Homo sapiens: one gene and its partner. The protein of the gene in region 2 interacts with the protein of the main gene of each other region in a biochemical or structural test. Each region holds a gene or a part of one and is shown on either strand. Other genes may lie near its edges.

Evidence for each region. The genes of interacting proteins can lie anywhere in the genome.
Region 1: of the proteins of ST13 (region 2) and F2, one has a biochemical effect on the other in vitro, tested with the Homo sapiens proteins (one study listed by BioGRID).

The regions. Positions count from the first base shown.
Region 1 is NC_000011.10:46,736,213-46,740,006, forward strand, and holds the end of F2 (prothrombin preproprotein), read left to right. Parts: intron 1-2,835; coding exon 2,836-2,906; intron 2,907-3,052; coding exon 3,053-3,196; 3' UTR 3,197-3,294; downstream 3,295-3,794. UniProt on the Homo sapiens protein: Thrombin, which cleaves bonds after Arg and Lys, converts fibrinogen to fibrin and activates factors V, VII, VIII, XIII, and, in complex with thrombomodulin, protein C. Functions in blood homeostasis, inflammation and wound healing.
Region 2 is NC_000022.11:40,832,640-40,836,139, forward strand, and holds part of ST13 (hsc70-interacting protein), read right to left. Parts: intron 3,249-3,500; coding exon 3,164-3,248; intron 3,032-3,163; coding exon 2,921-3,031; intron 33-2,920; coding exon 1-32. UniProt on the Homo sapiens protein: One HIP oligomer binds the ATPase domains of at least two HSC70 molecules dependent on activation of the HSC70 ATPase by HSP40. Stabilizes the ADP state of HSC70 that has a high affinity for substrate protein.

The DNA.
Region 1 (3,794 bases), on a different chromosome or scaffold from region 2:
ATCAATCAATCAATCTTTGAACTAGTGATTTGAGATTTCACCTTTATCACATTCTAGATTGTATCTTATTTTCATTTATTTATTTGAAATATAGACAAGTCTCCCTGTGCTGCCCAGGCTGATTTCAAACTCCTGGCTGGGCTCGAGCAAGTCTCCCGCCTTGGCCTCCCAAACTGCTGGGATTACAGACGTGAGCCACCATACCTGACCTAGGTTTTATTTTTTAGTTTTATTTTTTCCTGCATCCAGCTAATTTGATTTGATTTGTAGAGACGGGGTCTTGCTATGTTACCTAGGCTGGTCTCGAACTCCTGGGCTCAAGTGATCCTCCTGCCTTGGCCTCCCAAAGTGTTGGGATTACCAGCATGAGCCACGGTGCCCAGCCCCACGTTCTAGATTTCTATGGATAGAGTATGCTTAAGGATGAGTATGTTTCTGGATGTTCGACTCGGCTTTCCTGGTCTGTTGTCTGTCTGTGTACAGCGTCACATTGTTTTAATGATAGAGGCTTTAGCGTACATAGCTGGGAAGGCTAATGTTCTCTTTTAGTTTTTCTTTCCAGTGGTTTCCTGGCAATTCTTGCATGTTTGTTTTTCCATATGAACTTTAGTGTCAACATGCCTAGGTCTATAAAAAAGCTTGGTGGTAATTTTATTGGGATTATGACACTTCAACAAATTAACTGGGAGAATGGACATATTTTTGATGTTGAGTCATTTTATCCAAGGATAAGAAACGTTTTCCTATTTGCTCAAGTCTATTATTGTATCTTTCTTGACTGCTGCAATGTATTCTCTTATAATTTTTTCTATTGGTATCTTATTTTATGTATTTGTAATATCTTATTTTTCTTGAGTAAATTAGTTAATGGCTTGCCGGTTTTCTCAAAACAAATATCTAGGGATTTGATTTATGAAATTATTAGGCCTATTATTTTTCTTTTTTTTGAGATGGAGTCTCACTCTGTCGCCCAGGCTGGAGTGCAGTGGCGTGATCTCAGCTCACTGCAACCTCCACCTCCTGGGTTCAAGTGATTCTCCTGCCTCAGCCTCCCCAGTAGCTGGGGTTACAGGTGCACGCCACCATGCCCGGCTAATTTTTTTATATTTTTAGTAGAGACGGGGTTTCACCATGTTAGCCAGGCTGGTCTCGAACTCCTGACCTCATGATCCGACTGCCTCAGCCTCCCAAAGTGCTGGGATTACAGGTGTGAGCCACCGTGCCTGGCCTTTTTTTTTTTTTTTTTGAGACAGAGTCTTGCTCTGTCACCCAGGCTGGAGTGCAGTGGTGCGATCTCGGCTCACTGAAAGCTCCACCTCCCGGGTTCACGCCATCCTCCTGCCTCAGCCTCCCGAGTAGCTGGGACTACAGGTGTACACTGCCACGCCCAGCTAATTTTTTGTATTTAGTAGAGACAGGGTTTCACCGCGTTCGCCAGGATGGTCTCGATCTCCTGACCTTGTGATCCGCCTGCCTCAGCCTCCCAAAGTGCTGGTATTACGGGCGTGAGCCACTGCGCCCGGCCAGGCCTATTATTTTTCTATTGTGGTTCATTAATTTCTGCTTTTTTCTCTTAAAAAGTTTGCTTACGTTTTTGTCTGGTTTACTTTGCTGTTCTCTTGCTAGCTTTTTTTTTTTTCAGATAGGGTCTTGCTCTGTTGCCCAGGCTGGAGTGCAGTGGCACAGTCATAGCTCACTGCAGCCTTGAACTCCTGGGCTCAAGCAATCCTCTTCTTGCTTCAGCCTCCCACGTAGCTAGGATCAGAGGTACATGCCACCATGTCCGGCTAATTTTTTTTTTTCGAGACAGAGTCTTGTTCTGTCGCTCAGGCGGTAGTGCAGTGGTGCAATCCCGGCTCACTGCAACCTCCACCTCCACCTCCCAGGTTCAAGCAATTCTACCTCAGTCTCCTGAGTAGCTGGGATTATAGGCGCACACCAACATGTCTGGCTAATTTTTGTATTTTTAGTAGAGACAGGGTTTCACCACGTTGGCCAGGCTGGTCTTAAACTCCTGACTTCATGATCCGCCCGCCTTGGCCTCCCAAAGTGCTGAGATTACAGGTGTGAGCCACAGCACCTAGTGAAGGTGTGGTTTTTTTGTGTAGGTTTTACTGTTGTTAGTGTTGTTCTGTATTGTTTGTAGAGGATACGTGGGGAGATTTGGATAAAAGCAACTATCATTATTATCCTCATCAGACTTGTAGGTCTAACTTTTTAATTTTTTAATTTTTAATTTAAATTTTTTTCTTGGTCTTTTATCATTAATTAATTTTTTCGAGACAGGGTCTCACTCTGTTGCCCAGGCTGGAGTGTGGTGACATGATCACGGCTCACTGCAGCCTTAACCTCCCAGGCGCAAGTGATCCTCCTCTCTTAGCCTCCCGAGTAGCTGGGACTCCAGGCATGTGCCACCATGCCCAGCTAATTTTTTGTAGAGAGAGGGTTTTGCCATATTGCCCAGGCTGGTCTTGAACTGCTGAGCTCAAGTGATCCACCCGGCTTGGGCATGAGCCACCTCCCCTGGTCTGGTCCAACTTTTTAAAAGCATTATTCTGCCTGTTGGGTGGAGAATAGACTGTAGGTGGGCAAAGAATGAAGGAAACTAGTGGGTTCAGGAGCTCGAGCTAGAAGTGGTGAGAAGGGTTTGGATTTGGGGTCTATGCTGAAGGTAGAGCCGACAAGATTTGCTAGGATTGGATGGGTAGGGTGAGGAAGTGGGGACAGCAAGAATGACTGGAGGGGTAAGTGGACTCTCACCAGCTGTGTCTCGTGAAGGGGCGTGGCTGGGCTATGAGCTATGCTCCTGAGCACAGACGGCTGTTCTCTTTCAAGGTTACAAGCCTGATGAAGGGAAACGAGGGGATGCCTGTGAAGGTGACAGTGGGGGACCCTTTGTCATGAAGGTAAGCTTCTCTAAAGCCCAGGGCCTGGTGAACACATCTTCTGGGGGTGGGGAGAAACTCTAGTATCTAGAAACAGTTGCCTGGCAGGGGAATACTGATGTGACCTTGAACTTGACTCTATTGGAAACCTCATCTTTCTTCTTCAGAGCCCCTTTAACAACCGCTGGTATCAAATGGGCATCGTCTCATGGGGTGAAGGCTGTGACCGGGATGGGAAATATGGCTTCTACACACATGTGTTCCGCCTGAAGAAGTGGATACAGAAGGTCATTGATCAGTTTGGAGAGTAGGGGGCCACTCATATTCTGGGCTCCTGGAACCAATCCCGTGAAAGAATTATTTTTGTGTTTCTAAAACTATGGTTCCCAATAAAAGTGACTCTCAGCGAGCCTCAATGCTCCCAGTGCTATTCATGGGCAGCTCTCTGGGCTCAGGAAGAGCCAGTAATACTACTGGATAAAGAAGACTTAAGAATCCACCACCTGGTGCACGCTGGTAGTCCGAGCACTCGGGAGGCTGAGGTGGGAGGATCGCTTGAGCCCAGGAGGTGGAGGCTGCAGTGAGCCACTGCACCCCAGCCTGGGTGACAGAGTGAGACCCTGTCCCAAAAGAATCCACTATCTATCTTCAGAGCAGGGCCAGGTGAGAGGAAAGATGGCAGGTTGAATTTACAGGCATTAAAGATGTTCCACCCTCTGGGTTTTAATGGATTATCTCATTTAATCCTCACAAGAGGTAGGTGAGTAAACTGAGATTTGGAGAAGTACCTTGTCCAAAGTCACATGGCTAAGAAAGCTCAAAGTAGGACTTCAAATATAGAAAATATTGAGTGAGGACGGTGCTTTTTTAGTTAACTCCCTACATCTTCCCTTGTATCATTAAAATGAT
Region 2 (3,500 bases):
CATGGGCTGCTTCTTCCCAGTGGCCTAGAAGTCTGAAACAGATTTACACTCATTTTAGGAGCCTTTTATACATATTCACCTATGTGGCATGATATCTTTCTTCCTTACAAAAAAGGATTGTTCTAAAACAGGCTTAAGTTAAATATTAACTATAAACTTTCACTAACCAATTCAATTACTATATCCCATTTTAGTTAACTCTATAAAAACCTGAAAACATTTAAATTTCCTCTATTTAAAGCTGCTTTTCTACTAAAAGCTAAAAAACAAACAAAATCTTTCTTAATTCAGAATATCGTAATTTTCTAAGTATGTAGACCAGTAACTTTCAACTCGCCCAAACCAGGACTAACATAATGTGTTAGCTTTTAGCTACCTTCTATGTAAGACAGAAGAGAAAATAATACATGTGTACAGGCTTTACGAAAAACTCAGAACAAGTAAACCAGAAACTAAAGGTTGGTGACAGTAGGTGAGAATGGGGCAGAGGAGACAGCAACGAAAACTGAGAATTCACTGGGTATACCTTTTAACTCAGGTGTAACTCTTCGAACATTTAAATGCTTTACATACTCAAAAAATAAAATCAGAAAAATGGAAATAAAGCAAATCCTAAACCTGAATACAAACAGAAATAAGAAGCTGTGTGGCTGGGCGCGGTGGCTCACGTCTGTAATCCCAGCACTTTGGGAGGCCGAGGCGGGCAGAACGCGAGGTCAGGAGATCAAGACCATCCTGGCTAACCCGGTGAAACCCCATCTCTACTAAAAATACAAAAAACCAGGCGCGGTGGCAGGCGCCTGTAGTCCCAGCTACTCAGGAGGCTGAGGCAGGAGAATGGCATGAACCCAGGAGGCAGAGCTTGCAGTGAGCCAAGATCGCGCCACTGCACTCTAGCCTGGGTGACAGAGGAAGACTCCATCTCAAAAAAAAAAAAAAAAAGAAATAAGGTGTGGCTAGGCGCGATGGCTCATGCCTATTATCCTAGCACTTTGGGAGGCTGAGGCTGGTGGATCACCTGAGGTCAGGAGTTCAAGACCAGCCTGGCCAATGTGGCAAAACCCCATCTCTAATATAAAAAATTTGCCACACATGGTAGCGCACACCTGTAATCCCAGCTACTTGGGAGGCTGAGGCAGGAGAACCGCTTGAGCCCGGGGCGGGTGCAGTGAGCCAAGATTGCACCACTTCACTCCAGCCTGGGTGAAGGAGCAAAATGCCTCAAAACAAAACAAAACAAAACAAAACACTGTGTATTGCATTAACAACATAAGCTACACAGAAAAAAATGAATTCAAGTAACTTTTCATAGTTATCTTGACTGTATATTTCAAGTGGGATATATATTCTAAGAATAAGAACATCCTTGGGTCACACCTGTAATCCCAATGCTTTGGGAGGGGAAGGAGGGCAGATCACTTGAGGCCAGGAGTTTGAGAATAGCCTGGCTAATAGGCGAAACCCCCTCTCTACCAAAAATACAAAACATTAGCTGGGCATGGTGGGGCGCGACTGTAAGTAATCCCAGCTACTCAGAAGGCTGACTGAGGCAGGATAATCACTTGAACCTGGGAGGTGAAGGTTGCAGTGAGCCTAGATCGCACCACTGCACTCCAGCCTGGGCAACAGAGTGAGACTCTGTGTAGAAACAAAAGACAAAGCAAAACAAAAACTTCCCAAAAAACCTTCAAACTTTACTTAGAGTGTATACTGTTTTTAAGGTATTGTAATTCTGAAACAGTTTTATGTATATCACAGCATTGTAGTAAGTAAATGTAAAACTAGGACAAAAATTTTTACCACACAAGTGTCAAAAATACAAACTAAAAGGTAAAACAAAACATTTAATGTTACATTTTAATAGAAAATATCAGTATAAACTCACAATTTCAAGAATTTTTTCCCTAAATTCATGATTTTTAAAATGTTTTTTTCTAGCTGTTCATTGAAACGACAGTACATACCAGAAGCAATGAACAGACACAGTGATCAAATCTTAGTTTCCGCTATAATGAACCACGATTTCCCACAGAAATAGCTTATTTTCAGTCTGAGACAAGCAAAGCACAAGATGAGCCAACGCTGTCTTGTATTAGAAGGCAAAGAAATACTTGGACTAATGGGATTTCAAAAGGATCAACAGCAATGCATGGGCTTTTCCTGTGCTGACACAGCATTAATAAATTTTATTTCAACTTTTAATGTTTATCTTTAACATGTGTCATAAAATCCACTAGAGCTACTCTGAGTCAGCTAATACAGTTGTCCTAAAAACATATCCATCTTTATCTCCATCCACATTTGAGCCCTTTCAACCCAGGTAACATGTGAAAGTCACTGAACACTTCATTCCCAAGATACAAATATTCCTAAGTTTTGCTGCAAGGTATAATTACTAATCTGGGTTAAATTCACCTCTTTATGCCCCCCCGCCTTCTCCTAATTTTTCAGGTGGCCTAGCAGTGACTGAAGTAGTTTCAGGCTGGCATACTCCTTCTTCTATAATACACTGGTAGTTCAATGCTAACTTACAGAGTCTGAAAGTAAGAGAAAATTTGTAAGGACACTGATAAAAGATCATTCTTTCTTTTCCTGGAATTAATTTTAAGTAAAAATCCTTTCCTTATATTTGGCCATATGTAGTCAAAAACTGGTAAGAGTAGCTTTATTTGAATGAAAAAAATGAAAATACTTTTTATTTCTTCCTTCCTATATTCTCACTTCTTCTTTTAAATTTCTTTTTTTTTTCTTTTACCTTTTAAGCAGCTGTCTACAAGCTATCTCACTTCTTGATACTAAGTACACACTAATTTGAAAATTAAGTCATTAGGAACTTTTGTGTTTTTGTTTAAACAAAGCATCTTAAAACATCAGATTTAAATGTAAAGAGTTCTGAAAATAATTAAATTCAATTATTTACCTGTGTGCTTTCCCCCGCCACTTGTAAGGCTGAGCTGAATCAGGATTTATTTCAATGGCTCTGTCACAGTCTCGGATGGCAGCATTTGGCTTCTGTAATTTGACGAAGACACTGAAAAATAAGTGTGTTATTAAAAAGTATTCATTTCAGTAAAAGTTTTGGGATCAACACAGAAGCAACTCTATTTAAACAAATGTGCAGAAATTATTTGCCAGGGGATGCTTTTCTGTTTAGAGTTCTCACCTGGCCCTCTTGGCATACAAAATGGCCAAGCGAGGATTCAGCTTGATGGCATCTGTGAATAAGTCAATGGCTTTCTGGAGTTCACCTAAAGTGAAACAAAAGTTATCGAGAAATATTCAGAGGATAAAAATATTAATAAAAAGTTTTGATCTGTTATCCAGTTAAGTCTTTTACATTTTTCTTTTAATCAAGTAAAAATAAAAAAGACAACTAAGTTATACTAAAACTGGCTCTTGAAAGCAAATCTTACCACACCTATACTGTAACTCACGAGGTAAGACAATTTCTGAGTACGTAAGCCCCTAACTAACAATAGAATAGCACATTCTTAGTATGA